4 linked regions of the Homo sapiens genome follow. The protein of the gene in region 2 interacts with the protein of the main gene of each other region in a pairwise test. Each region holds a gene or a part of one and is shown on either strand. Other genes may lie near its edges. The genes, in order: SPIRE1, ATP1A3, BOK and EYA3.

Region 1 (7,113 bases), on a different chromosome or scaffold from region 2:
AGAAGAGGCTTCAATATGGTCGTAGAGCTTTTTATTTCACGTAGAATTGTGAAGGTTCAAATAATGATATATTATTCTGTGTAAAAAAACCTCAAAAAACAGTAATATAATGCAGAATTATTTAAAATAGCCACATCATTAAAAAGGAAACTTGAAATTTCTCTTTGCAGAGAAGTGACGTACACACCCTGGTTGTCATAACACAGCTTCATGACAGGTGATGGGAGCACACAGGTTTCCTGAGCCCATGCCCTGGTTGTGCAGGTGTCTGTGGGTGGGCGGAGTCCACCATGGCTACCTGGCCTGGCAGGAGGATGCTCTGCTCACGGAATGAGTGAGCAAATACTCTTCTGATGGTGGGGGGAGGCCCTAGGAGGAATGCACCCCACGGGCTCAGAGTGCCTGCTGCACATGGAGAAAGGTGGCAGCACTGACTCTGCTATACAATTAGGTCACCCGAGGAGACAAACACCCACAGGTCCCCTTCATCAGATGCTGCATTTTGAGTTTGTTGTCCTTTCCCAGTTATTTCCCTCAACTGAGACCACGGCATGATCGGTGCATCCTGCACAAGGGTGGAATCAATGATTGGAAGCAAAGTGCTATCTAAGCGGTTAATTCTCAGAGAACGCAACAGTTGAGGTGTCACCGTCAGAGATACAGAGAATGAAATAATCCCAGACCCAGCAGAAAGAGGCCAACCTTTGAGGATTTCCACCTGCTGGTAAAAGCTCTCTCACACAGATAATACATAGCCCCTGCTACCCCAAACATGGCTGCTTCAAAAGGATGAGAGCTGAGCAGAGAAGCTGTTTGTATGGTAGAAAAAAGTGGTCGAAAAGGCGTCCTTGGCCATACACTGGTTATCCTAGGAACCTGAACAACAGATAAGGGAAAAAGAAAATGGCAGGGGGAAAAGAAAAGGAGAAAATAATGCTGAACACAAGTGACCTACACATAGTGATTACAGATCACAAAAGGAAAACAAAACAAAAAACACCATGAGGCTGGTACAGTCCGTGCGAACATCTGCATCCACACGTATAAATCAGTGATGAAACCACGAAGTCCTTCCTGGAGAATCTCAGCGTTCACACAGCAAGGATTTTTCTAATTTAGGGTCCTGCAAACACTCTGAGTTTCCTCAGTGGGGCTTGTTGTGATGAAGGATAGAGGCAACTCGTTACTGTGCCTGAGAAAGCATGGGGACATGTGCCAGGCAGCCACTTGCACCTGCCCCAGGAAGGTACTGCCAACACGAGGTGCCTTTAGACTGGATGGGCATTTGCCCTCGGTTATTTGACCAAATGATGAAAAAAAATGACATTTTAAACATCACAAGAAAAGGGAGGGAGATACAACAAAAATAAAAATTATCAGCCGGGCACAGTGGCTCACGCCTGTAATCTCAGCACTTTGGGAGGCCGAGGCGGGCAGATCACCTGAGGTCAGGAGTTCGAGACCAGCCTGACCAACATGGAGAAACCCCGTCTCTCCTAAGTATACAAAATTAGCCGGGTGTGGTGGCACATGCCTATAATCCCAACTACTTGGGAGGCTGAGGCAGGAGAATCGCTTCAATCCGGGAGGCGGAGGTTGTGGTGAATCGAGATTGAGCCATTGCACTCCAGCCTGCGCAACAAGAGCGGAACTCCATCTCAAAAAAAAAAAAAATTATCAACAATAAAAACATTCCTGCCATTTTCAGTTGAGGAGTTACAAATACAAAATGATTCTTTGTTTTCTAAAATGCAGCTACATTTAAAAATTAATTACACTTATAAAAACAATACTTACCAAGCTATAGGGCATTACTACAAGGTATGATTTTATGGATTTCCCAAGATAAGCTATTAGCAAGGAAGATCATTTCGTCTCTGCTGGTGCTTGGAGGCCTGCGTGGACTCTGCTCCCTGCCCTCAATCTGACCACTGTTCAGTGCTGAGCAGAGCGGCTCTCCCACTGCCTGCTCACTGAGACCTTCCTCAGTGATTGCAAGTTAGTTTATCTTGCTCTCCTTCCTGCTCCACAAAAAAACAGTGCACGGCCTGACCTCGCAACACTAAGAGCTCTGCTTTAACAGGAAACAGACACAGTCATGGGCCCTTGGGGTCAGCTGAAGGTCTCAGCATAACTTCTATTATAAGCTGAAACTACCTTGTAGCTAAGCTGATAGTTCCTTTACATTGCTAATTTTAAACTTTAAGTCTAACCTCAATAATGACATTGTATGATCACATAAAGGCCAGTTACAAGCTGAATGATAGACTGGCTTCTAGGAAAAGCTGAGTGAAGAAGAGAATACCCTAATGATTAGACTTATGAAAAAAACCACAAGTTCCCTCTTACCTATACACATGTATGTGTGTGTGTGTGTATGTATGTATATACATACATGTGTGTATGTATGTACATATGTACGTACATACATATGTGTGTATGCACGTACATATGTACGTACATACATATGTGTGGTATGTACGTACATATGTATATACATACATGCGTGTATATGTATGTACATACATATGTATATACATACATACACACACATATACACACACATACACATATGTGTGTATATATATTTTTAGAGACAGGGTCTTGCTGTGTCATCTACGCTGGGGTGGAGTGGCACATTCTTAGTTCACTGTGGCATCAAACTCCTAGGCTCAAGGGATCTTCCCTCTGCAGCATCCTGAGTAGCTGGGATTACGGGCATGCGCCACCACATCTAACTAAGTTTTTAATTAAAAATTTTGTACAGACAGGGGTTTCTTAAGTTGCCCAGGCTGGTCTCAAACTTCTGGCCTCAGGCGATTCTCCTCCTTTGGCCTCCCAAAGTGCTGGGATTACAGGTGTGAGCCACTGTGCCTGGACCCTCTTACATATTTTAAAGTTGTGATAATAGCTGTATATTTTGGTAAAAGCAATAACTTATTCACATGAAAACAAATTTTTAGATTTTTACGTTTGAATCTGTCTGGTCAGAGTTCTGTTTTCTTGTTGGTAAGTCACTGACAAGGCTATATTTAATCGAATAGCTGTGTTTTGGTGATTATTCTGGAGCTAGAAGAATCCTATCAGGAATCGCCATAAAATCATTAGTTCTTTAATTGCACTGTTTTGGCATAGAGATGAATGACCAAATATTAACATTCTAAGCTCTGTTCAAAATCCCTGTCTTCACAATAATCGCATTATCTCCCATCTGTTATTACTTTAATTGAAACTCTAATAATTCATCACAGCCTTAAAAAATGGACTTAGTATTCAATATATTCTATTATTTTTTATTCATGAATATTTGAAAACACATTAGATATTTGACTGTGGGTAGAATATTAATTACAGCTGTGCATCTTGCCTACAAATATTTCAGAAGCCAAGTGGCGCTACAAAAGAGTCTTTGGAGACCTCTGTTGGCTGGGAGATCTACTAATTCCTCCTGGCAAACCCTTGTGTGCTGCCCACTGTCCTGAGAAATGAGCACCCACTATAAGAACCTGCAAGTCTCTGGAAAACAGCAAAAACTATAAACCAGTTCAACCAAAATAACACCACTGGCCCCAAATATCACAAAACATACTAGAAAACAATGTACAGTAGTTATTAATGGATCAAAATTCTCCCTCGCTTGTACTTCTGCCTCAATAAGATCACCTACTGTAGTCATTTTGCTAAGAGTTTTTTTGGTCAATTTTTAACAATTTTTAAATGGATTAATAGCCTTTGAAAGAAAGAAAGCATTTCTTTAATAATAATCCATACTTTCAACCACTGATAAATTTTCTTGAAAAAAAAAAAGAGCTCAAAATGAACAAACACTGGTCAAGTTTCGTTTAGGTTATGGATAGAGTTTGGAGAAGGTGTCACTCTGCTGCCCAGGCTAGAGTGCAATGGTGTAGTCATAGCTCACTGCAGCCTTAACCTCCTGGGCACAAATGATCCTCTCACACCTCATCCTCTTAAGCAGCTGGGGCCACAGGTGTGCACTACCACACCTGGCTAATTATTATTATTTTTTTTTGCAGAGACGGGATCTCACAATGTTGCTCAGGCTGGTCTTGAACTCCTGGAGTCAAGTAATCCTCCCACCTTGGCCTCCCAAAGTGTTAGGATTATAGGCACGAGCCACCACGCCTGGCTGTTTGTTTTCTTTAGCTATTAAGTAAGTTATTCAAAATTCATTCTAACTTTTGCAAGTTTTTTTCTCCTTATCATCTTCATAAGAAAGCTAATGATTCTATGTCTTCTAGCTGGTCCCTAAGTTACTACAAAGTCTTTCCTGTACTTACAAGAGAGCGGGAACTCTGCCTGGAAGGCGGCAGGAACTGCCTCACGTTAGTAGGCGTTTCCTTTTCAATGGAATGTCGTCTCTGGGGTGGCTGCCGTCTCTCTGGCTGGGGTGTTGATGATATGGGCAGGAATTTTGGAGGCTCTAAAGATTGAACCAAATGAAATAAAACTTACTGTGAATTTTCTAACACAAAACCTTTTGACATTTGTGACAAACACTGTAATTCAAAGATGAATTATTTATTTCATTGGAGAGATATTTTAAGATGGTAATGGTAATCCTTAGGAGTAGACTCTGAGGGCTGTTACAGAAGAATCTTTGCAAAGTAAACTTGCTACAGAAATAGCAAGAAAAAAGGAAAAATGTTAGGTGTAGCCAGAAAGATTCCCAAATCATACCAAAATTCTCAATGTACCCTCTTTTTACATTCTCCTTTTTAAAGATAAAATAAGGAAAATCCTTCTTTCTACATGTTTACCAAGACATTTTGTCCTTAGGTTTAAATTAAACTGTATTTAAACTGCAAAAAGTAAGCTTCAGCTTTGATGTTAATATTGTACCATTGTCCTTCTCTGCCTAGTAATATTTTAAGACTGTTTAAAAGGAGACTGCTTTAGTGTCTGAACGGTTCTGGATTCCCATTTTGAAAACAAAAGGAGAACATTAGAAATAAATTATGGTGCCAGAGTTTTATTTAGTGCTTCCTCCTACTCTATCTACAGAGTAGAGCTGCTTCAATGTAGTGGGTGTGGAAAGTGAGAGTCAACACAAAGTTACATATGATCCATCTATTTAGACTGTCCCACCATGAGAAACCACTAAAGGAAAACACAGATATAATTTCCACAGTCAAGAAAAGATACAGAAATCCATTATGTGATTCAATTGGGTCCCTATAATATCCAATTGTGGATAGTCAGTACCTACTGTTTTTGATATAATCTGTGTAAATAATAAAACTACTTAAAGAATTTTTGTGTATGAGAAATCAAGCCAATATATAATTTTTAATACTTCATAATGTTCTTATAAATGAAAAGGATTATTAAAAGCCTTTAGAAATCCCTTAACTTTAGATATCTGTGTTCAGAATCTATCTCCTAAAGAGTTATAAAGGTGTTTTCACTATCTACACAGGTTTTTGGAGATGGGTGTGTGTGGGTGGTAGGTGGAATGATAATAAATATGGTTGTGTTGGGCTTCTGGTTTAAATTTAGCCAAGGAGGTAATCTATCTAAAACAAAACAAAACAGAACGCTACACACACAACTGATTTATAATATTTCCCATGACTATTGTTCGTAAACACACATGTGCCTGCTCTGTCATAAGACCCCGAGGCCTGGTATGATGCCACTCTTGGAAAATAAGTATTTCATCTCCCGATCAGTGAAATGCCTGAGTTAGTTCTTTCTACCCTAGATGATCACAGGGCGCTCTGGGATCTCTGCTCTAGGTCAAGTGTGTTTTGTAGTAAGACATCCGACTACAGCTCTTAGCACCACAACTACTCACTCTTCCTTGTGGACACGGCCTCCAGGACTGGCTCTTCAGGGAAAGAGGGAGACACGCTGCTGCTGCTGGTCGACTTGTGCAGCGTTTCTTCCTGAGCAAAGTACAGGTGGAGAAATCGACTTCTTAGACATTTGTGCTCTAGTGCTACGTAATAACATTTTATTATTAAACAGTTATTTTAACATGAGGCACCAAAGTATGTCAAAGGTTCAAGGCAAGCAAAAGACAAACTAGAAGGGGTTTCAAACAAGACAGGTCTGGGTTTGTGCCTTGGCTCTGCCCTGATGAGAGTGATGTGAAACTGAGCATGCTTCTTTCTGTTTTTTGGAGACAGGGTCTCACTCTGTTGCTCTGGTAGCAGTGCAGTGGTGTGATCTGGGCCCACTGCAGCGTCTACCTTCTGGGCCCAAGTGATCCTCCCACCTCAGACTCCAGTAGCCAGGATCACAGGTGTGCACTTCCACACCCAGCTAATTTTTAAATTTTTTGTAGAGACAGGGTCTTCCTATGTTGCCTAGCTGGCCTTGAGCTCAAGCGATCCTCCCAAAGTGCTGGGGTAACAGGTGTGAGCCGCTGCACCTGGCCTGAGCATGTTTCTTATCTTAGTTTCATCATTGTGAAAGAGGGTATTTAATATCACTTTTTCCATAGGGTTATTGGAAAGATGAAATGAGGTAATGCATTCAAAATGCTTAACACATTACCTGGCACACAATAAAACAGTGGTTAATATTATTAGGGAAATATTTAATACATTTATACAAGTAATACATTGTCAGCCTCATGGGAGCAGATGCTGGGTCTGTCTTGCTCACTGATGTATGTCCAGTACCAAACCCATCACTTAGTAAGTAATGAGTGTTTGTTGAATGAATGGATGAAAAAATAAACATTTCATGAAATGTCATATGAGTCTAGAAAAATGTCTACATTGTGGGCCAGGTACGGTGGCTCGCACCTATAATCCCAGCACTTTGGGAGGCCAAGACGGGCAGATCACGAGGTCAGGAGTTTGAGATCAGCCTGGCCAGCATGGTGAAACCTCACCTCTACTAAAAATATAAAAATGAGCCAGGCGTGGTGGCACGCGCCTGTAGTCCCAGCTACTTGGGAGGCAGAGGCAGGAGAATTGCTTGACCCGGGGAGGCAGCGGTTGTAGTGAGCTGAGATCGCATCACTGCACTCCAGCCTGGGTGACAGAGTGATACTCCGTCTCAGAAAAAAAAAAGAAAAAGAAAAAGAAAAATGTCTACATCGTGCCAAATAAAATTAAAATTCTTATTACCAGTGAGAAGAGA
Region 2 (8,094 bases):
AGGCTGGTGGGAGGGGTGGGGCGAGGCTGGGTGCTGCAGGGGCCGCTGACAGGTCCCGCAGGCCCAGGGCCAAGCTGGGATCGGAGGCTCAGCGCGGCTCAGCGCTAATCTCCTCGTGACCTTGTAGAGGGCCTGAGCTGCCTGCTGTCTGCCCCCAGACCCAGAGGCTGAGTCGGAGGGTGGGGGTGTGCAGGGAGGGGCAGCAGCCTGGAGATCTGGGAGCCTCAAGAAGGGGTGCAGGGGGTGGGAGGGAGGCTTGGCCCCACGCCAGCCCTGCAGCAGCACTGCGTCTCAGATGCGGAGGCACAGAGGCTTGGGGGACGGGGAGACCATCTTTCCTACTGCCCTACAGTGCCGGGGTGGTCTCAGCTTTGCCCGATGGGGTAGACCCAGGATGGAGAGACATGGAGAGATGGAGAGATGTGGAGCTACAAAGGCCTGGGGTCAAGTCCTGTGCAGGAGGCCAGGAGAGGGGTGAGATGGGGGTCAGGAGAGAGAGAGGGAGAAAATCAGCTGCCCACCCAGAAACCTTAGTTGAAGGCTGGGAGCTGATGCTCGGGGCCCCATAAATGCTAAGGGCTGGGCCGGACTCTCAGATACTGAGAGAGGCTGGGGTCCTGGATCCCTGGGTCTGAGGGAGGAGGGGCAGGGGTCTGGACCCCTGGGTCTGAGGGAGGAAGGACTGGGAGCCTGGAATCCTGGGTCTGAGGGAGGAGGGGCCAGGGCCTGGACTCCTGGGTCTGAGGGAGGAGGGGCTGGGGCTGGACCCTTGGGTCTGAGGGAGGAGGGGCTGGGCCTGGACCCCTGGGTCTGAGGGAGGAGGGGCTGGGGCCTGGATTCCTGGTCTGAGGGAAGAGGGGCTGGGGCCTGGACTCCTGGATCTGAGGGAGGAGGGGCTGGGGCCTGGACTCCTGGATCTGAGGGAGGAGGGGCTGGGGCCTGGACTCCTGGTCTGAGGGAGGAGGGGCTGGGGCCTGGACTCCTGGTCTGAGGGAAGAGGGGCTGGGGCCTGGACTCCTGGATCTGAGGGAGGAGGGGCTGGGGCCTGGACTCCTGGTCTGAGGGAGGAGGGACCGGGACCCTGGGACTCCTGGCTCACCCTGGCCCTGGCCTTGGCTCCTGCTTGCCCTTGACACAGCCAGACCCCCTTGGGGAGCAGGCTCCCATCTGTTGGAGTGCACAGCTGAGGCTTTCCCAGTCAAGGCAGGAGGCCCAGATGGGCGCGCTGCGGGGTGGGAGCACCTCCAAGGGTGGGGACCATGCCTGTCTCGCTGTGGCCGCCTCTGCAGCTCCTTGCCATTTTCCATGCTGTCCGCCTCTCCCTGATCTGGTGCCAGCTCCCGCAGCCTCTGCGCCTGGGCCGGCCTCCCTTCCCCCTCGCAGGGGACCTGGCCCACATCTCTGACCATCCCTCCCTTGACCTCCCCCTTTGCCCTCTGCCTCCTCTTCCTGTCCCTCAGGCTGACTGTGGTTGCCGCTAGATAGGAAATATCTGTCCTTGTGTCTCTTCCTCTGAGCCTCAGTTTCTCATTTTCTCTCTCAATGTCTCTCCATGTGTCTCAGCCATGTCTCTCTGCTTGTCTCTGTCTCTTTGTCTCTATGTCCATGTCTCTTTCTCTGTCTCTTTCAGAGCATCTCTGTCTTTCCATGTGTCTCTGTCTTTCCTTCCCATGTCTAAGCTGCCTTCATTTCTCCTCTCGTCCCCACTCCGTTTCCTAAGACCACCTCCCTCTAACTTCCTTCTCTAGGGCTTTTAGCATCAGTCTTCTCCCAATCCATCCACAGCTTCCCTCCCTCCATCCCACTTACCTGACAGCCATCACTGACTACCCCTTTCTCCCTTCTCTCCCCTAGTCCTGCCCCAACCCAATCCTCCTTCCCAGCCCCCCGGCCCACCCTGCCCCACCCCACAGATCTGCAGCCCCATCCCCCACCTCCATCCCTGGGCCCATCAGCCTTTATCCGCCATCTTTCTCCCCAGCCCTCCTATTCTCCCTCCACTGGCCTCTCCCGCCCTCTTCATCCCACCTACCCCCACCCACCCCCTCCTCTCCTGATTCCCCCTCCCTTCAGCCCCGCCCCAGACACACAGGGAGGAATCCAGGGCTGCAGCAAGGGTCAGGTGGTCAGCCAGGGAGGGAGGCGGCATCTGCTGGAGAGACTCACAGACAGACAAGGACACACGGACACAGAGGCAAGGACACAGCCAGGCATGCACGCTCCCCACTACACAGTTGCACACGCACACCCTCAGCTGTGCACTCAGTCTCCCCACCGTGGCTCTCCTGTTCCTCTCCTCCTCCCAGCCTCCCATGCCTGCTCCCCTACATGAGGGGCTGCACACACACACACTGCAGCCCCAGGCTGCGACACTGCGGAGCCTGCACACACACACACACACACACACACACACACACACACACACACACACACTGCGGAGTCCCCCCATCCAGGCCTGGAAGGAGAAAGAGAGGTCATCTGGTGTCCATCCCACAACGTGGACCTATCCGCACCCTGCCAGGGAAGCAGGGGGGCCTCAATAACCCCAGACGCACTAACACGAGCTCTCACAGACACACCCAGACGCGATCGCAGACTTTCAGACACCACGGGGCCCACACACTCGCTGCCAGGGCCTGACAGAGCCAGCAGCTCTCATACGCACATGCAACTGTGCACATGCAACCGCACAAGGTCAGGCGGAGATGCTGAGGGCTGGCCCACAACCTCGCGGATCTCCGCACACAAAGCCATGCCAACGTGCGCCACAGACCCCCCGCCGCCCCCTGCGGCCCCACGACCACATGGATTGGCTGGGTCAGCCGGCTCCCCGGGTCTCGCAGGCCTGGCCCCGGAGCGCAGGGGTCCCGGTGCCCCCGCCCCCCGCGCACACCCAATGTCACCGGCCCCACAATGTCACACGGAAGCGGCGCCCAGCCGGCTCAGCACCTACCCCCATCTTGGCGGCTCCGCGGCGAGAGAGCCAGGCGGGCGGGGCGGGGACCTCGGGGCGGGCTCAGGCTCAGGCTTGGGCTGGGAGCCTCTGCAGCGCCCGCGCCTCGGTAGGTGCGCGCGTCCGTCCGTCCGTCCGTTGGTCCCACCGCACAGAGGCTGCGGCGGCCGCCGCCTCCGCCTCCTCATATGCCCGCGTCCGCGGGAGGGGGGCGGCGCTGGCCAATCAGGGGCGCCGCCGTGCTGACGGACGGCCCGCGGCCCCGCCCCTGGTACTGCAGCTGTCCTCCCCTTGGGCTCCGCAAAGTGGCGGCGCGGCCGCGAAGGGGGAGCGCTGCGGGGGTGGGGGGATTCCCAGAGACCTCCGCAATAGGGGACTTGGAGACCCCCTCAATATGGAGTAGGGCCTCCAAGAAGGGGCGCTCAGGGAAAGAAAACCCCGGAAATCCTCTCATTGTGGGGGTGTGCCATCACCGAGAAGGGTACGCTGGGGGAGGGGGGGCGGGTAGTGACACGGGGTGGGAGGGAAGCCCGGTGAATCACTGCAGTGTGGCACCAGGGACCCTGGAGACGGCGGGGGGTAGTGCTGTTCAGGGAGAGGGCCCTGCAGGAGGGGAAGTTGGAAGGGAACACAAGAGAGCAAGAAAGGCCTTGCAATTGAGGAGGGGTGCTGGCGGGAGGAGCCCTGAGATTCCCTCACTGTGGGTGCCCCCCCACTACGCCTGAGCTATCCAATGAGCCACAACCACACAGGGTACACGGGAGACACAACACGGTGGAGGATGGCCCCAGGAGGCCCAGAAAATGCCCAGCGTCACAGTTACACAGGACCATCACACTGATAGCCCAGATGCTGGGGACACGCACACACCACAGGGTTGCACTCATATTCCACCATAGGCCAGCATGTACCCTCACACACACAACACCACCCCACCACACACAGAGTCTCAAACATAGAGTGAAACACACATAGGGCACACACCTTACACACCCATCACACCACAAGAGACTCATAATCACAGCCACAAAGTGCTGTGCGGACTAACACCGACACTCAGAAAATCGCAGACTCACACATCACACACTCTACCACACCTGACCTCCCACCATCTCACATAGAAACCCACATCGTGCAACCCATAAACCAACACACACCTGCACTCAGCACCATCACACACGCACAGGCCTCACACTGCCTCCAGACACACTACATCAGCCTTTGTGGACATCGTTGCATGATCCCACGATGTCGCACACATCCTCACACACACTGCTCCCCAGTGTGTTTGGGCATGAGCAACGGCCCACAGTGCAAAGTTGCCAATGCTAACTGTGAATGACAGACAAAAAGGTGCACACACTTACACATAGCACAATAATTCAAACACAAGTCACGCGACACCCACACACCTCCCACACATACACACATCACGTTATTGCAGCACTATCGCAGACATCTTTGTTGCACCTCCAAACACACCCCAACGCCCTCACCCACATGACACACAGAGCTCGTCACAGTATATGTACACACACAGATGCACAGCCGGCACCCACACCCCAGGCCTGCTGCCGACACACAACACCCCATCAGCCACCCCACTGGAGCCCAAGAAGTTGAGGCCTCCCCACTCACTCCAACACCACTTTGTTCTATGAGGAACACCCCAGACTCTCCCTGGGGATGGTAGAAGGGGAAGAGAGAGAGAGAGAGACAGAGAGCATTTGACCTTGTAGTTTTCTCAGAATGTGGGTATCCTCTCCACCTATGGGATAGGAGATGTGGGGGACGCAGGCAAGGGACAGGGAGTGAGCTTGGTGTATGAGGGTGGGTGGGTGAAGGTCGAGGACCTGGTGCAGGGAAATGTGTGAAAGGCTGAAGGCCAGAGAGAGGCACAGAAACACAGAGATTCAGAGCCACAGCATATGGACAGAGACAAGGCCAGAGAGTGAATGGAGGCTTTCCCCAGTGCCCAGAGCCCCATCCCAATCCTGTCCTCTGACCCGTCCCCATCTTTCTCGCTGTCCTTTGTTGCCATGGTAACAGGGAGCTGCTTCTGCAGCAAAGGAGGTTGGGCCTGCAGACTGGGCTGTTGCCATGGAGACTGGGAAAGGGGGAGGAGCCACATCTTTTAACCCAGATGCCTCACCCCCAGACGCCCCCTCCCCAACTCTGCCCTCTTCCTAGGGGAGGGAGAGCCTATCAACATATCCTCCTTTCCTTCTCTTGACACCTTGGCCTAGAGGCATGGGCCTGGACCATGGAGAATGGGACTGGGGAGATGGGGAAGCCTGGGGAGGTGGGGGAGGCCTGGATTCCAGGAGATTCTAGGCTCTGTCTGCTCTTGCTCTCCAGCTGGGCCGGGGGAGGCCTTGAGCCCTTCCCATCCCACCTCAGACACAAGCTCACGTCCCCCCTCATGCACTCTCTCCTCAGGCACGAGCCTGATGAGACTGATGACTGTGCATCGTGCTCCTGGTGAGGCTCTGCAGAAGTAGGGGGGGCGGTGAGAAGGAAAGACCTGGGAAGGTCACAGGGATAAAGGGGAATAGGGGAGCTAGATGTGAGAGGCGGAAGGAGAGACACAGAGGGAGAAACAGGCAGCCCAGAACCAGAGAGAGGCGGATACAAACAGATTGAAAAAGACAGACAGAGATTGGCAGATGCAGAGATGAGAACACGGAGACAGAGCAACGGAAGAGTTCAGTGAAGGTGACAGAGACAGAGAGACGTAGACAGCCAGGCAGAGACAGGCTTGGTAAACCAGGGAGACTCAGAGATAAAGGCCAGGGGGAGACTGAGCAGAAACCTGGTAGGGGACCGGGGACTCAGAAATGGGGGAGACCCCAGAGGGAATTGGCCTCGAGGCATTGGGACAGAGAAGGGGGAGAAACCAGAAATGTCTGTAATCATGTTCTAGTCACCTCGACAAAGAGTCCGACCCAAGGGCAGAGACATTGATTGGAGTGTGTAAGAGACGTGGAGATAGAGATGCGAGACAACAGAGAGAGGCTGGTGCCTGCCCCCACACCTGTCCGAGGGGCACGCAACCAGGGTCTGAGACGCAGAAGGGGACGGGTGGCGACGGGGGGCGCTGTGTGCGGGGAGGGGTCTCCCAGGGTGTGGCCGGCCTGCCAGGACTGCGCTGGGCAGGCGGGCCCTGGAGGGAAGTCGGGCGCTCTGGGCTCAGGCTGGCCAACTGGGTGCTGAACGGACAGCTCCCAAGCCCCGGGCCGCCGCCCAGGAACGGGCGCAGCCTCGCTCTCTCTGGGACCTTTCCAGTCAGGCTTTCCTTTCCGTTCCAGTCCCCTCCAGGTTCCATTTAGTTTTTTATGGCTTCCTGTCTCTCACCCCAACTCCGGGTGTATCTTACCCTCCCGCTTCACCTCTGGTCTCAGCCCTCTATTCTTTCTCCAGTCTTCTCTCACCTCACCCAGCCTCTCTCCCTGTCTCGCCGGCTCTGTGTCCTCTAGCTCTCTCTCCCCATCCCCCTCCCGCCCACTCTGCCCCCTTCGTTGTCTCTCCCCATCTCTGTCTCTCGCCATCCCTCCATCTCTCCCTTTCTGCTCGGCCTCGTTTTGGCTCTTGCTGTGTGACCTTCACTCGTCCTTCCTCAGCTGCAGTTTCCACAGAAACCTCCGGCGGGGCAGGGAGGGCGGGGACAGAAGGCGGACCCACCTTTCTCCTGCGCCATCAGCCCTTCAGCCTCTCCCACCCCTGCCCGCCCACCCACCCCCCAGTCTACTGGGATTCCTCACTTCCTCTCTTGGGGGTTGGGGAGGTACATTTTCAACAGAAACACGGGATCACAGCCACAGACAGTTGAAGATGGCCTCGCAGATGCGTGCACACACGATCACAACGTCACTGAATCACCCCGGCCCAGGCACACACTCGCCACCCCAGGCACGGCCACACTCAACAGCTCACTGGCCCTCCCCTCCCCCAGCCCCATCTGTTTTCTGTCTTTCTGTGTCTCCGCTTCCGGTGTCTCCGCGTCTCCAGATCCCTGCATCTCTCCATCTGTCTCAGGGTCTCTGTCGCAGCCTCCCTCTGTCCTGAGAGAAGGTCAGTGGAGAGGGGCCAGCTGCTGGGACCCGGGCTGGCCTGCAGCCTGTAGGCAGGGCTGAGGGTGGAGAGAGCATGGAAGTAACCATCGAGGCTCACTCTGATTCTCAGCAGGTGCCCCGGGGACCCAAGCCTCCAAAGCCCTCACACCCCCAGGAAATGAGAGACGGTATCCCCAGTTCTGGGGTTTTGTTCTTTTTTTTATTCCAACAGGGGCTGCGATGTGGCAAGGGGAGGGATGGGGGCCCAACTGACCCCCTCCCTGGGGGAGGTCTCATAGAAATTCCGAGGTTTCTCCCCCCAAAAAAGAGAGGAAGAGAAGAGTGGAGGGGCACCAGGGGACACCCATCTGTCCAGAGGCCCTCCCCACCTCCAGAAGCGTGGGGGGCTGCGTCAAGTCTTGGGGAGCCTGAGCAGTCCCAGAATGGGGTCCTCTCCGCTGACTGCTTTCCGCTTCCCAGAGCCGCCCCCGAAGTCCCCAGCCCCTGGAGTCCTCGGTTCCTGCGCCCTTCTCGCCCGCGGCACCCTCTCGCGAGTCCACTGGGGGGCGCAGGCGGGCTCCAGAGCCAGGCCTCGGACTTCGCGGGGAACCAAAGGCAAAATCGCGGCGTCCGGGGCGCCGGCGCACAAGTCCTGTCCCGCGCCCGCTGCGGGAGCGGAGACTGCTGGGGCCTGGGGCGGGCCCCGTCCCTTCGGTCAGTCCGGGCGCCCGCACAGCCCCGCCCGTGGTCACTCGTGCTCCGCCAGCTCCCGGGGGCCGGCGGGGCCAGGCCGCGGCCGGGGCGGGCTGGTGGCTTCGGCGGGGACGCCCAGGCCACGCGGAGGCGCGCCGGCCCCCGAGGCCCGCAGCGCCTGGATGCGCCGGCACTCCTGGCAGACGCGCACGTGGGTGCAGGGGGTGGGGGCGGCGGGTCGGGCTCCGCTGGGGGGCCCCGGGTCGTCCAGGAGGCGCTGCGGGCCCCCGTGCGCGCTGCCCGCATCCCCGCCCGCGCCGGCCGAGTAGAGCTTGCCGTTGCTGAGGCGCATCTCGCGGACCGCGCGCAGTGACAGCAGGGCCCGGCTCGGGCCGC
Region 3 (7,113 bases), on a different chromosome or scaffold from region 2:
AAGGTGGAAAGAACCCAAGTATCCTTCAACAGATAAATGGATACAAATGTGGTGGATGTTACTCAGCCACAGAAGGCAGGCTGGGCACAGTGGCTCACGCCTATAATCCCAGCACCTTGGAAGGCCGAGGTGGGCAGATCACCTGAGGTCAGGAGTTCAAGACCAGCCCGGCCAACATGGTGAAACCCCATCTCTACTAAAAATACAAAAATTAGCCGGATATGGTGGTGGGCGCCTGTAATCCCAGCTACTCGGGAGGCTGAGGCAGGGCAATCACTTGAACCCAGGAGGTGGAGGTTTCAGTGAGCCCAGATCGCACCACTGTACTCCAGCCTGGGAGACAGAGCAAGATTCTATCTCAAAAAAATAAATAAATGGCTGGGCGCGGTGGCTCACGCCTGTAATCCCAGCATTTTGGGAGGCCGAGGCAGGTGGATCACGAGGTCAGGAGATCGAAACCATCCTGGCTAAAACGGTGAAACCCCATCTCTACTAAAAACACAAAAAATTAGCCGGGCATGGCGGCTGGTGCCTGTAGTCCCAGCTACTCGGGAGGCTGAGGCAGGAGAATGGTGTGAACCCAGGAGGCGGAGCTTGCAGTGAGCCGAGATCACGCCATTGCACTCTAGCCTGGGCAATAGAGTGAAAAAATAAATAAATAATAAATAAATAAAAGAAGGCATGGGGCTCTGAGGCAGGCTGGGCATGGATGGGCCTCAAAAACACATGCTTGGGTGGAAGCTGCCAGGCATAAAAAGCCACATACAGTGTGAGTCCGTGGATGCAAAATGTCCACAACAGTCAGGGACAGAGCTGGGACGCAGGCTCACGGCTGGCAGTGGGCGAGGGGTGGGGAATGGCGGTGGCGGCCACGGGCACAGGCATTCTGGGGTGATAAAGACCTCCTGAGACTAGTAGCTGGTGGCTGCTCCACACTGGGAATGTGGCAGATGCTGCTGAATTGCACACTTTTAAGTGGATAATTATGTCATGTGAGTTTAACGTCAATTAAAAGAAATGGGGAAAAACACAACTCAGACCATGTCACTCCCCTGCATAAAGCTCTCGTGTTGCTGTGACTTCCCGTGTCCTTCAAAGTAAACCCAAGTTTGAATTCCCAGCTGAGCTGGCCCCTGGCAGACTCCAGCCCTTTTCCTGCCACCCCAACCTCGAAGGTGCCCTTGTCATTGGTGGGATGCGCACACCCGGCACAGCCCCTGCTCTACCCGCTGCACTTCCCCAGCACGTGGGGCTGTTCCTCCTTCAAGGGCACGGCCATGCGGGGAGCGGAGCCTGATGTCAGCACTGCGTGTGGCTTGCGGGACAACCTGTTCTGAGGTGTCCGGTTCCATCAGAACAGTGCATTCCACGCTGGGTGCGGTGGCTCATGCCTATAATCCTAGCACTTGGGGAGGCTGAGGCAGACGGATCACCTGAGGTCAGGAGTTCAAGATCAGCCTGGCCAACATGGTGAAACCCCATCTCTACTAAAAATACAAACATTAGCCAAGCATGGTGGCGGGTGCCTGTAATCCCAGCTACTCAGGAGGGTGAAGCAGGAGAATCGCTTGAACCCGGGTGGCGGAGGTTGCAAGATCACAACTCTTCATTCCAGCCTCGGCAAAAGAGCAAAAATTAAAAAAAAAAAAAAGAACATACTATGTTCCGAGTGATGGCAACATTTCCACTCCAGAGGGGTGGATGGGAAAGAAAGACAGGAAGACAGGAGTCCGGAGGCACCAGCCTCGGCGTCCACTGTGTCCTTCCAGCTCTTCTGTGTCTTTTTAACTGATATAATTCCATTACCATAAAATTAATCTTTTAAAAGTGGGATATCTTTGAGCATATTCACAAAGCTGTGCAACCATCACCTCTATCTAATTCTAGAACATTTTCATCATCCCACGAGAAACCCCATGCCCACTAGCAGTCACTCCCTATTTCACCGACAGCCCCTGGCAGCCACTCATCTTACTTTCTGTCTCTGTAGATTTACCTACCCTGAAAATTTCACATAAGTGTAATCACACGGCTTGTTCATTTTGTGTCTGGCGTATTTCACAGGTTGAGGTGGCAGGAAAAGGGCTGGAGTCTGCCAGGGGCCAGCTCAGCTGGGAATTCAAACTTAGGTTTACTTTGAAAGACACGGGAAGTCACAGCAACACGAGAACTTTATGCAGGGAAGTGACATGGTCTGATTTGTGTTTTTTCCCAGCACTGTGGGAGGCCGAAGTGGGTGGATCACCTGAGGTCAGGAGTTCGAGACCAGCCTGGTTGACATGGTGAAACTCTGTCTGCTAATAATATAAATAATACTAACAATACAAAAATTAGCTAGGCGTGGTGGCACATACCTGTAATCCCAGCTACTCGAGAGGCTGAGGCAGGAGAACTGCTTGAACCCAGGAAATGGAGGTTGCAGTGAGCCGAGATCGCACCATTGCACCTCCAGCCTGGGCAACAAGAGTGAAACTCCATCTCAAAAAAAAAAAAGAAAAAAGAAAAAAAAGAAAGAATAGGGTCTGCCTCTGTCACCCAGGCTGGAGAGCAGTGGCACAATCTCGGCTCACCGCAACCTGCGCCTCCCGGGTTCAAGCGATTCTCCTGTCTCAGCCTCCCGAGTAGCTGAGATTACAGGCATGTGCCACCAAACCTGGCCAATTTTGTATTTTTATTAGAGACAGGGTTTCTTCTTTTTGGTCAGGCTGGTCTCAAACTCCCGACCTCAGGTGATCCACCCACCTCGGCCTCCCAAAGTGCTGGGATTACAGGCGTGAGTCACTGCACCCAGCCATTTTTATTTTTCTTATAATAAAACTATAATTAGAAGAATTATATAAAATTACATATGTATTTATAGAAAATACAATTCAAATTCAAAGAAAAAAATAAACACTATTGCCAACTTTTAAATGGGGAGGAAAATTGAGTTCTACCACTTTGGAGATGAGTTTTTCCAAAGTCCTGAGCAGGAACTTTGAAGCCCTAAATGAAAACAGCCAGAAACAACATTTGTTGGCCTCTGCCTTCGTGGGAGTCTCCTGGGGCTGGAGACTTGGAGACCCCCACGGAGCCCTGCCCTGCAGCCCTCACACGGCTCACAACACTAGCCAAGGCCCCAGCCCTGAGGTGCGGGCTGTGCAGCTTGCCTGCAGTGGAGGGGCTGGGCAGGGCGCACACCCTCAAGGGCGCCTGCTAAGAGGAGGAGAGGGAGGAAGACCGGGGGTCAGAGCGTGCAGGGATGGCTGGCGTGGGAGGGGCCTCAGGCAGGGAGGCAAGGATGTGTAAAGCACTTGGAGGCTGGAGGCTCGCCCTGTAGACAAAAGGGCCCAAGAGGACTGGGATGGACAAAGGTGAAGGGGGCTGGGGGTGCAACTGCCAGTGGGCCTGAGGGGCAGAAGGGGCGGCCCTGCCCTAGCTCCCTAGTCAGGTGGCTCTGGTTCAGGGAGGTTCAGAAACCCGTTGCAGGTCACGAGGCTCTTGGGCTTCAACCTGCGTGGCTCCCCTCGGGCAGGGCCGCCTCAGAGTAGCAGCAGGTGGGGGTGTGGGGGCTGCCACATGGCCAGAGCCGGGCCTGCGTGGGACAAGCCTGGGGCGCTGGGTGGGGTGGGGGATGCTGACCACAGGGGAGTGGGCTCCGGTTTTCCAGTGAAAACAAGACTTAAACTGAACTCTACACATAGCCCGGGCCACCTGGCCGGTGCCGCCCACATTCCCCGTCAGCTGTGTGCCCGCTCGTCCAGCCATCCCCTTCCCCTCAGCCCTCCCTGGCCCCCAGGTGCCCTCCCAGAACCAACCAGAGCCTTCCTAGGCACCGCCCCCACCTCAGGCCAGGCCCTGCTCAAGCAAGGCCGGGCGGGTAGGGGCATCCTGGCCCCATCCTCTCTCCCTGCCGAAGGGGGAGGCGCCCCACCTCTGGGCAGGCTGCTGCATTCTCAGAAATGACTGTTCCTTTTAAAGCCAGCCTGCAGCTCGTAAACCCAGCGGCCCCGAGACAGACACCCGGGTGGCCACCCACGCGCCGGCGTCGGCCAAGGGAGGGCTGAGAGTGGTCGTCAGCCCAGGATGCCTTCCACCCCTGGCTTCCTTCCGGGGCCCCACCCACTGCCTGCCCCGTGCCTGCCTGGGTCACCCTGGCGGCAGGAGGGGCGGGCACCAGCTTGCCAGCTCCTGCCACCATGCTTCCGCTGCCCACTGTGCCGTGAACCCTGCCCCCTGCCCACCCGGCCCCTGAGCCACACCACCTGCCCACTCCCCAGCCCCTACCCATATGCACCCCCAGCCGACTCAGGTCTGCCCCATGACACGCCTCAGCCTGGCCTGGGCCCGGCCCCCCACCCTCAGCTGCCACGTGGGGGCCTTGGAGCCAAACTGCCAATGAGGATTCATTTACGATCTCCCAAAGGAACACAGGAGCAGTGACAGAGTCCAGGCTCTGAGGCCACCCCAGGAGCGCCAGACAGGGAGTCTCGCCCGCACCCAGCTTGGTTCCGCCTCCTGACCCCACACCACAGCCTGAGGTCACTGCCCCTCCCCAGGTGTGGTCTGAGGCACTCCAGCACATGCTGTGGCAACAAGACAAGCCCGGAGGCAGGACCAGACCCCGCCTGGACTCCCATCCCTGGACTCAGCCTTCCCGCTCCAGCAGCCTGCCAGGTCGCCGCTGCATCCCAGCCACAGTAACTTCTGTCCAGGGAGGTCAGCAGTGAGCAAGCGTGGCACTGGAGAGGCCGGATTCTGTCAGAAAATGCTCGCAGCCCCCGCCGCCTTGGCCTCCAGCCGAGGGTGTCAGCCCCGCTCTGTCCCCATCTGGCTGGCCCACCAGGGGTCGGAGGAGACGTCTGGGAGAGGAGCTGGAGGACACCCCACAAAGGTGGGGTCTGCCTGAGCGAGAGGCAGTGGTCCTCACACTCCTGGCCTCTTCCCCTTGCCCTCCGGTGGGTGGAGGTCCCGAGGCCATCTGAAGACCCCTGGCTCTGAGGGTCACCCCGTGGCGTGGGATGCATCTCCCACAGCGAGGGTGTGGCTTCCTCTGGCGCCTGATGCCTGGCTCCTGCTGCTGTCAGGACTGCCTGGAGACAAGGCAGCTGAGGCCACAGAGATGACAGCAGGCCACAGTCACACAGCTGACTGGCCACGGACCCACACCAGCTCCCAGACAAGGGTGTGCAAGGCCTCCCTGCTGTCAGGGGTCTTCCAAAAAACTGCCCCAGGGGAACAGCATGCCCCTCCTCCAAGCTTCAGGGAATCCTGCGCACCCCGGGGTTCACTGGCCCAGAGCTGTGCCCAGCACCTGGACAGCACTTGGAAAACAGCTGAGGAATGTGCCAATCAGGGAGGTGCCACATCAGGGCCGGCGCACCACTCACCCCAACAGCAGCACCCAGCGCCTGCCACACCCAGGGGCAGCTCATAGCACGGGGTGCCAGGACAGGACCCAAGGTCACAGAGGTCAAAGGCAGGGGGCTGAGGTCTGCAGGGCCAGACCTGATGACATGGGGCAAGCGGACAGAAGCCACACTGGGCAAATCCAGGCCAAGGCAGCTGGACAAGTGGACAGCGGGCACCGAGTAGGGGAGACAAGCCCTAAGCCTCCCGTGGGCCTAGAAGCATGTGGACAGCCGGGAGCAGCAGGAGCAGGGAGGCAGGGCCAGGAGATGCCTCTCCAGGGCAGAGATGGGAGCGCACAGGAGGGTCACAGGTGAGGCAGGCACAGCCAGGTGAGATGCGCTGCTGTTCTCCGGATGCCCTCCGGGAGCCAGTCTGCTTGGACCCCCATGCTCTCCCCTCTCCTGGACGCTGGAGCCCTGAGGCTCGCTTCTGACCATCAGAATCCAGCAGAGTTACCCGTGACTTCTGAGGGTATATCCTAACAGCCTGGCAGCATCTACTCGGGAGCTGTCTGGGAAACCTGCTCCTTGCCACTCCTCCTTGGGACACAGCACCATGCTGTGAGAAGCCCAAGCCCCGCTCGGGGGCCCCTGCAGGAAACCAGGCAGCCCTAGGACGTGCCACCCCACAGGACTGCAGGTCACGCGGCCCCACGGATGCTGGACCACAACTACAACCAATCAAGAAGCCTGTGCCAGCTGCTCAGCATGCCCACCAGCCTGCAGAACCACAAGAGACCCTGAATGCTGTGGTTTGAGCCCACGCTGGTGGCTGGGCAGCTCCTGACACCTGCAGCAGTGAGATGGCACCGGTGGGCACTGGGCAGCGCCAGGATGGGTGGGGGCCAGCTCGTGGGGTCCCTGTGAGCCTGAGCCACAGACCCTGGATCCCTCCCTGAGGTCCCATGGGACGGGCAGGCTGGGCATACCTGCAGAGAAGATGTGGCCAGCCACGGCCAGGAACGCATCGGTCACCACAGGCTCAGACTGCAGGGAGATGTGCAGCTGACGCGCCACGTTGCGGTAGACGCTGGGCCGGATCATCTCCAGCTCATCGCCTGTGTGGTCACAAGAGCAGGTGAGAGGCAGCCCACGTCCCAGCTTCCTGGGACACGACTGGCTTGGGGCACACCCTGCACCTGACCCCCACCTGACCATGCTTGAATTCCAGCCTGTTCCTCACTTGTCTGATTCCCACCTCCACTTGACCCCATCTGACCTCCCTTGGGCCATCCCCCAACCTTGGCCCCTAGGGACCAGAAGACCAAGGAAGTACTGAAGGCGCCCCCAGTCCCGCCCCTCTGACGAGCCAGCCCCTAAGCCTAGCCGGCCAAGCCGGTGGGGCGGGAATCCTGCGAGAGCGTGGGCCGTGCCTGCTGGTGACTCACAGCCGACAGGCAGCCGAGCTGCCCAGAGCAGGAGGGACCAGGCAGACGGCCAGACCCCGACGTGGGGAGGGGCTGGGCAGAGAAAGCACTGGGGTGAGAGCAGGGGAGCCCGACGTGGGGAGGGGCTGGGCAGAGAAAGCATTGGGGTGAGAGCAGGGGACAGCCCGAGAGCCCGGCTCAGGCCCTAGCATGGCTCAGGGACCACTCAGATGCAGAGGCTGAGCCGCTGTCCTGGGCCACCCGCACTGCCACGCTCCCACCTGGGCTGGCTGGGCCGCTGTCCTGGGCCACCCGCACTGCCACGCTCCCACCTGGGCTGGCTGGGCCCCTGTCCT
Region 4 (7,113 bases), on a different chromosome or scaffold from region 2:
TATAGAATATACAAAGAACTCCTACAACTCAACAATGAAAAACCAAACAACCCAGTTTAAAAGTGGGCAAAGGTTCTCATGCTTGTAATCCCAGCACTTTGGGAGGCTGAGGTGGGTGGATCACCTGAGGTCAGCAGTTCAAGACCAGCCTGGCCAACATGGTGAAACCCCGTCTCTACTAAAAATACAAAAATTAACCAGGCGTGGTGGCATGTGCCTGTAATCCCAGCTACTCAGGAGGCTGAGGCACAAGAATTGCTTGAACCTGGGAGGCAGAGGTTGCAATGAGCCGAGATTGTGCCACTGCACTAGGGAAATGCAAATCAAAGCCACAATAAGATACCACTTCACATCCATTAGAATAGCTATTATCAAAAAAATGGGAAATAACAAGTGTTGGCGAGGATGTGAACAAACTGGAACCTTTATGTATCGCTGGTAAGAGTATAAAACCGTGCAGCCACAATGAAAAATAGTTTGGTGGTTTCTCAAAAAGTGGAGCACAGAATTACAATAGCATCCAGCAATTCCACTCCTACATATATACCAAAAAGAATTGATAAGATGAACTCAGATAGATAATTGTACACCAATGGTCAAAGCAGCATTACTCACAATAGCACAAAGGTGACAAACCCCAAGTGTCCATCAACAGATGAATGGATAAACAAAATGTGGTATATACATATAATAAAATATTCAGACATAAAAAGGAATGAAATTCTGGTATGTGCTACAACATGGATGAACCTTAAAAACATTATGGTAGGCAGGGCATGGTGGCTCACGTCTGTAATCCCAGCACTATGGGAGGCCGAGGCAGGCGGATCACGAGGTCAGGAGTTTAAGAACAGACTGACCAACATGTTGAAACCCTGTCTCTACTAAAAATACAAAAATTAGCCAGGCATGGTGGTGTGCACCTATAATCCCAGCTACTCTGGAGGCTGAGGCAGGAGAATCACTTGAACCCGGGAGGCAGAGGTCACGGTAAGCCGAGATCGTGCCACTGCACTCCAGCCTGAGACTCCATCTCAAAACAACAACAACAACAACAACAACAACAAAAAACCATTATGGTAAATGAAATAAGTCTGGCACAAAAGGATACATTTTCTGTGATTCCACTTATATGAGATATCTAGAATAAGAAGTCAAAGACAGAAAGTAGAATAGAGGTTACCAGAGGTTAGAAGAAGGGGAGAATGGGGAGTTACTGCTTAATGGGTACAGAGTTTTCATTTGGAATCATGAAAAAGTTCTAGAAATATACAGTGGTGATGGTTAGACAATATTGAGAATGTATAATGACACTAAATTGTACACTTAAAAATGGCTAAAATGGTAAATTTTATGTATATTTTAGACAATTAAAAAATGAGTTATCAGTTTTTCCTAAGAAATATATCAGAAATTTACTTTTTCTTTCTTTCTTCTTCACTCCAAACCTCTGAAAAAAGAGAAAAGGCTTCAAATACAGGCTCAGTTCACCTATGTCTTAAGAGCACTTATCAATGGATTCATAGTTAAATATGTATTTTCCCCTCAGTACATAATAGCACTATAGAAAAACGGAAAACAGAAAACAAAAAGATAATACAAAAACTCCACTAATTTTAGCACTCTGCATGACCTTTATGTCTTTAATGATGAAGTCAAATGTATGTCCATAATAAACTCATATAGTACTTACACTACAGAATAAATCAGCACCAGTCTCATTAATAAGTTACCAGATCTGTTTGCGCCTTACAGAAACTTGGCTAAAAGCACTCTAGTCCTTTCCTTTTAAATTTCTTTTCTTTTTGAGACAGAGTCTCACTCTGTTGCCCTGGCTGGAGTGCAGTGGCCCGATCATAGCTCACTGCAGCCTCAACCTGCCAGGCTCAAGTGATCCTCCCATCTCAGCCTCCCAAGTAGGTGGGACTACAGGTGTGCAGCTAATTCTTGTATATATATATTTTTAGAGATGGGGGTCTCACTATGTTGCCTAGGCTGGTCTCAAGCGATCCTCCCGCTTCAGCCTCCCAAAGTGCTGGGATTACAGATGTAAGCCACCGCACCTGACCCTTTTAAAATTTTAAATAGAGAACAGTATGACTTTACTTGTAACTCCCTCTGCTTTCTGAATATGATGAATTGTTTCTGTTCTCTTCTGGAATATACAGAATAATTTGTTCTTTTTACATTTTTCTTTTAACGTGGCCAATTTAGTTTATTTTGCTCAGGAATTAAAGGGCACATAACATAGTGCACATTATCTCTGTGAGCTTCAAAAACATGTTTGATAAACTTAAGAAGTGAGAAAGAACAAAGTAGGTAACTAAATCAGTTTCTTCTCATACTTCTAATTCACTGTCTTGGGAAGAAGTGGCATCAGCTTTCCTCTTGCCCCGGTTCTTGCTAGTCATGTTTTTCCTGGACTGATCATCAGTATCTTTACTTGGTGTAGTCTGGGACAAAGATGGACTTGTAGAAGGGTCTCCTGGAAAGAAAAAGTGAAACATATGTTGTCAGGAGTCACAGGCTATAAGAATCAGGGCAGGAAGAGGGTTAGTGGACTCTCTGCCCTTGTGAGTCATAATGCAGGGATAAAGGTTGGAAAGCTAAACCTTATGTAAGCAATTATGAAGTGTACATCTAGGCATTGAGCATCAGCACTGGCTAACATCAGAAAAGTTATAACCAGACTTTATATGCTTACCCCATGATAGAAGAAAATATCAATGAAGTTGTTTTGCCAAGAAAAAGCTGAACCTGAATCTTCATGGTCAAACTTGTAGATTAGAGTTTCTCAACCTGGCACAACTGACATTTTGGATCAGATAATTATTTGTTGTGGGGGGATGTCTTGTGCATTATAGGATGTTTGGTTAAGCAGTATCCTTAGCATCTACCCACTAGATGCCAGAAGCACCGCCCCACCTAGTGTAACAACCAAAAATGTTTCCATACATTGCCAACAGTTGAAAACAACTGTTCATTCACCAATTTACTATAAAATACAGAAGGCAGCAGGACATGTTAAACCACCTTATGAGGATATAACTGTCAAAATTCAGACTGGGAAACAGTATGGGATCAACACTCCAGTTTCTTCAACAAACAAACTACAAGGGGGAGAAAAAGAGACGGGAGGATTTATAGGTTAAAATAGAGATGAAACACAAAATACCCATAATTACCAATCACAATTTATGGACCTTATATTTGGATCCTAATTTTCCCTCCTCAAATTTTCTATTTATTTATTATTTCTATTTACTAATGCGATAAAAACTGTATATGCTTTATGTTGTTTTGAAATATGTATACACTGTGGAATGGGTTGGATCCTACTTTAAACAAAAGGGAAACAAAACTCATAACATTTATGAGAAAGCTGGAAATACAAATACATTTTGGTACTTGATAATACAAAATTAAGACATTATTAATATTGAACTTTTAAAGATGGGATAATGCCATTGTGGTTATGTTAATAAGTACCATACTTATCTTTTAGAGAACAATGCCTGGAATCTGGGGAGGGAGCTAGATGATGTATAGCTGAAACAAAATTGTCTATAAGTTGATAACTGTTGAAGATGAATGATGGATATGTAAGTGTTCATCACACTAGCCTTGCAACTTTTCTCTATGTTTGAAATTCTCCAATATTCAAAAGTTAAAATTGTTATAACAAAGATATTTAGAAAAATGACTTTAAAACCTTAGTTTTTAATCAACACTTGTAATTATTTCAAATTTATGTAAGTTTGAAGTGGCGACCATTTGTATGTCCACTTATTAGACTGGTAGGGTGACCGCACAGAAAACTGTTCACTTGTTATATAGTACTGTTTCTAAACATGCATCAGTGCCAATGATAAACAGTGCTTTCCTCGAACCACATGATGTGAAAGCCAACTACCAAATTTTCATTAAATATAAATAAAAAGTGTGTGTATATATATGTTTATTAAATGTGTGTCTAATCTTTTATGTCAAAGGTTTTTAAGTTGGACACTGTAATTCATTGATACACTTCAGAGCTGTGAGCATACTGAAATTGTAGGTTAAATTGTATATATTTCTCTGAGGGAAAAGGACCATGCTTTCCTCAGAATCTTAAAGGGATCCTGGACATAGAAAGAACTATGGCTCTGAGGCCTTAGCAGCAGTTCAAAACCTGCGCAAGACTAAAACTGGAGTCCTCCAACTTTTACAAAATATTATAACATGCTGAAGCTCCCTGTGGCAAGTGGGTTAAAGCTACAGGGAGGGTAGAGTACGAGTCAGAAAGAGTCTTTTAGTTCTTGATACTTTTCTGTTCCGTTCTCAGCATCAGGTATACATTCAGCCTACCAATGACTCACAGCCTGCTTCCAATACTCCTCACCTCAGAGGGAAAGCCAAAAGCATGGTAACAATGACTTAAGACAGAACAAAATCATCCTTACCATTGCCTAAAAACAACTGTTGGATGAAGTGACCTTAAGCCAAAGTTTTCAGAGCTGCGGTGCTTACCAGAGGAAAGTCTCTGTGCTGCAGGTGCAGGCGCCATGACACTAGGCTTCTCCGACTGGTATGTGGTTGCTGCTAATGTGGTGCTCTCTGCATCACTGTTAGTCTGACCTGTGACTCCAAAGCTGGAGCTGGGGTAGCAGGCCTGGTACTGATTCTGACCAAGAATAGTATAGGTGGGATAATCCTGCAGGCCAAAGGAAATAAGAAAACAAGACTCTTATAGCATACATTAATCTCAACACAAGAGGCTTTCTTCTCCCTCTTTCTTATTCATAATTATTTTTCTAAAACATTAATTTGACTTCTCATTTACCTACCTAAAAGTCTCCAATCTAAATCAATGATTTTCAAAATGCATTCTGTGGAAACCTAAGTCAAGAGATGTCCCAGGAGCAGTCTTGGAATGAGGAAATGCTGAGAGGGAAGGGTCTTCTGTACTCTCATAAACATACACATGGTGTCCCTTTTTGTACTCTAACAGCCTCTTCCCCCAGTTTTATGTACCGAATTTCTGCACAGAATTTGAGGGAAAGATTCTACTCTAAGAGGTTTACAAACTGTTGCACTAGATAATAGCACTTCTAAGGACAACAAAACAAAACTTAAACTTAAGCAAACAAAAAAAGCACATATCCTACATTAAAATGTCTTAATTTAAAAACTGATTATCAGCTGGGTGCAGTGGCTCATGCCTGTAATCTCAGCACTTTGGAAGGCCAAGATGGGTGGATCACTTGAGGTCAGGAGTTCAAGACCAGCCTGACCAACATGGTGAAACCCTGTTTCTACTAAAAATACAAAAATTAGCCTGGCGTGGTGGCACATGCCTGAAATCCCAGCTACTTGGGAGGCTAAGGCACAAGAATCGCTTGAACCTGGAAAGCGGAGGTTGCAGTGAGCCGAGATTGCATCACTGCACTCCAGCCTGGGTGACAAAGCGAGACCCTGTCTCAAAACAAAACAAACAAAAAACAACCTGATTATCTACCTAAAACAATCAAGTTTTCTTTAAAAATAGTTTCCTGGCCGGGAACAGTGGCTTACGCCTGTAATCCCAGCACTTTGGGAGGACGAGGTGGGAGGATCGCATGAGCTCAGGAGTTTGAGACCAGCCTAGCCAAAATAGTGAGACCTTCTCTCTACTAAAAATACAAACAAACAAACAAAAATCCAGGCATGGTGATGCACGCCTGTGGTCTCAGCTATTCGGGAAGCTGAGATGGGAGGATAACTTGAGCCCAGGGGGCAAAGGTTGCAATGAACCAAGACTGCACCACTGCACTCTAGCCTAGGTGACACACTGTCTCAAAAAAAAAAAAAAAAAAAAAAAAAAAAGGCCAGGCACGGGAGCTCACGCCTATAATTCCAGCACTTTGGGAGGCTGAGGCAGGCAGATCACATGAGGTCAGGAGTTTGAGACCAGCCTGACCAACATGGCGAAACCCAGCCCCTACTAAAAATACAAAAATTAGCCAGGTATGGTGGCATGCACCTGTAGTCCCAGCTACTAGGGAAGATGAGGCAGGAGAATCGCTTGAATCTGGGAGACAGAGGTTGCAGTGAGCTGAGATCATACCACTGCATTCCAGACTGGGCAACAGAGCAAGACTCTGTCTCAAAAAAAAAAAAAGGTTTCTTAAAATATTGGGATAAAACTTTTGGTTTCATAGGCACATATATGGCAAAACTTACTAAACTGTACAATTTAAATCTGTGTAGTTTACTGTATGTCAATTACTCCCTAATAAAGCTGTAAAAAAACTAGGTATGACAGTTCAAATACGCAGCTAAAAAAATTCCATTGACACTGATAATGATGGCAAGTAGGAAAAAGCTAACTGATCAGATACATTATTTCTAATTAGTCATTGGGTATCTCTACCATAAACCAAATATAATTATATGTATGTGTGTATTTGTGCATGGGCAGAAGAAGGAAATATTAAAGAAAAGAATAAGTCACACTAGCAGAACTCAAGGGAGTTAAAAATCTAGCAGGAGAGAAGACAGACAACAAAATGGCAATAAAATATATGTCAAATGACTGAAATACAGAACAGACAACTATCATTGTAAAGTATGATGGTGAAGAAGCTTTCTGAGATTAATAGGCAGAGAAAGTAAGAACATGAATAGGCTCTGAGGAGATTTTATTCAGGGACCACAGATGCTGAGTCTGGTTGAAACAAAGGACCTCTGTAGGCCTGAATGATTGGTAAAGCAATAAGACTTGGATTCTTTAGGCAATAGTATATAGCCTGTGGGCTAGGGAATAGGGAATGGGGACTCTCAAATTCAAACCAACGAATAAAAACATGAAAAGAAGGAGAATGGCGTGAACCCGGGAGGCGGAGCTTGCAGTGAGCAGAGATTGCGCCACTGCACTCTGGCCTGGGTGACAGAGCGAGACTCTGTCTCAAAAAACAAACAAACAAACAAAAAACATGAAAATATTCTGAGCAGGTCAGTAACATGACAAAAAGTGGGATTTAGAAAAAATTAATGAGATAGTATTTTAGAGAATGAACAGGCACAAGGGGGAAAAAACTGGAAATAAAATGAGCAATTAACTATGGTAATTCAGGATTAAAAGGGAAAATACCA

The links.
Region 1: the proteins of ATP1A3 (region 2) and SPIRE1 interact in binary tests that used the Homo sapiens proteins (3 or more experiments, as listed by UniProt).
Region 3: the proteins of ATP1A3 (region 2) and BOK interact in binary tests that used the Homo sapiens proteins (3 or more experiments, as listed by UniProt).
Region 4: the proteins of ATP1A3 (region 2) and EYA3 interact in binary tests that used the Homo sapiens proteins (3 or more experiments, as listed by UniProt).

What each region holds. Positions count from the first base shown.
Region 1 is NC_000018.10:12,459,053-12,466,165, forward strand, and holds part of SPIRE1 (protein spire homolog 1), read right to left. Parts: intron 5,907-7,113; coding exon 5,816-5,906; intron 4,442-5,815; coding exon 4,299-4,441; intron 877-4,298; coding exon of another isoform or gene 703-876; intron 1-702.
Region 2 is NC_000019.10:41,991,118-41,999,211, forward strand, and holds the start of ATP1A3 (sodium/potassium-transporting ATPase subunit alpha-3), read right to left. Parts: upstream 3,114-8,094; 5' UTR 2,960-3,113; coding exon 2,954-2,959; intron 2,351-2,953; exon of another isoform or gene 2,315-2,350; coding exon of another isoform or gene 2,276-2,314; intron 2,110-2,275; exon of another isoform or gene 2,091-2,109; intron 1-2,090. UniProt on the Homo sapiens protein: This is the catalytic component of the active enzyme, which catalyzes the hydrolysis of ATP coupled with the exchange of sodium and potassium ions across the plasma membrane.
Region 3 is NC_000002.12:241,561,683-241,568,795, reverse strand, and holds part of BOK (bcl-2-related ovarian killer protein), read right to left. Parts: intron 6,449-7,113; coding exon 6,320-6,448; intron 1-6,319.
Region 4 is NC_000001.11:28,008,602-28,015,714, forward strand, and holds part of EYA3 (protein phosphatase EYA3), read right to left. Parts: intron 4,694-7,113; coding exon 4,510-4,693; intron 2,486-4,509; coding exon 2,346-2,485; intron 1-2,345. UniProt on the Homo sapiens protein: Tyrosine phosphatase that specifically dephosphorylates 'Tyr-142' of histone H2AX (H2AXY142ph). 'Tyr-142' phosphorylation of histone H2AX plays a central role in DNA repair and acts as a mark that distinguishes between apoptotic and repair responses to genotoxic stress.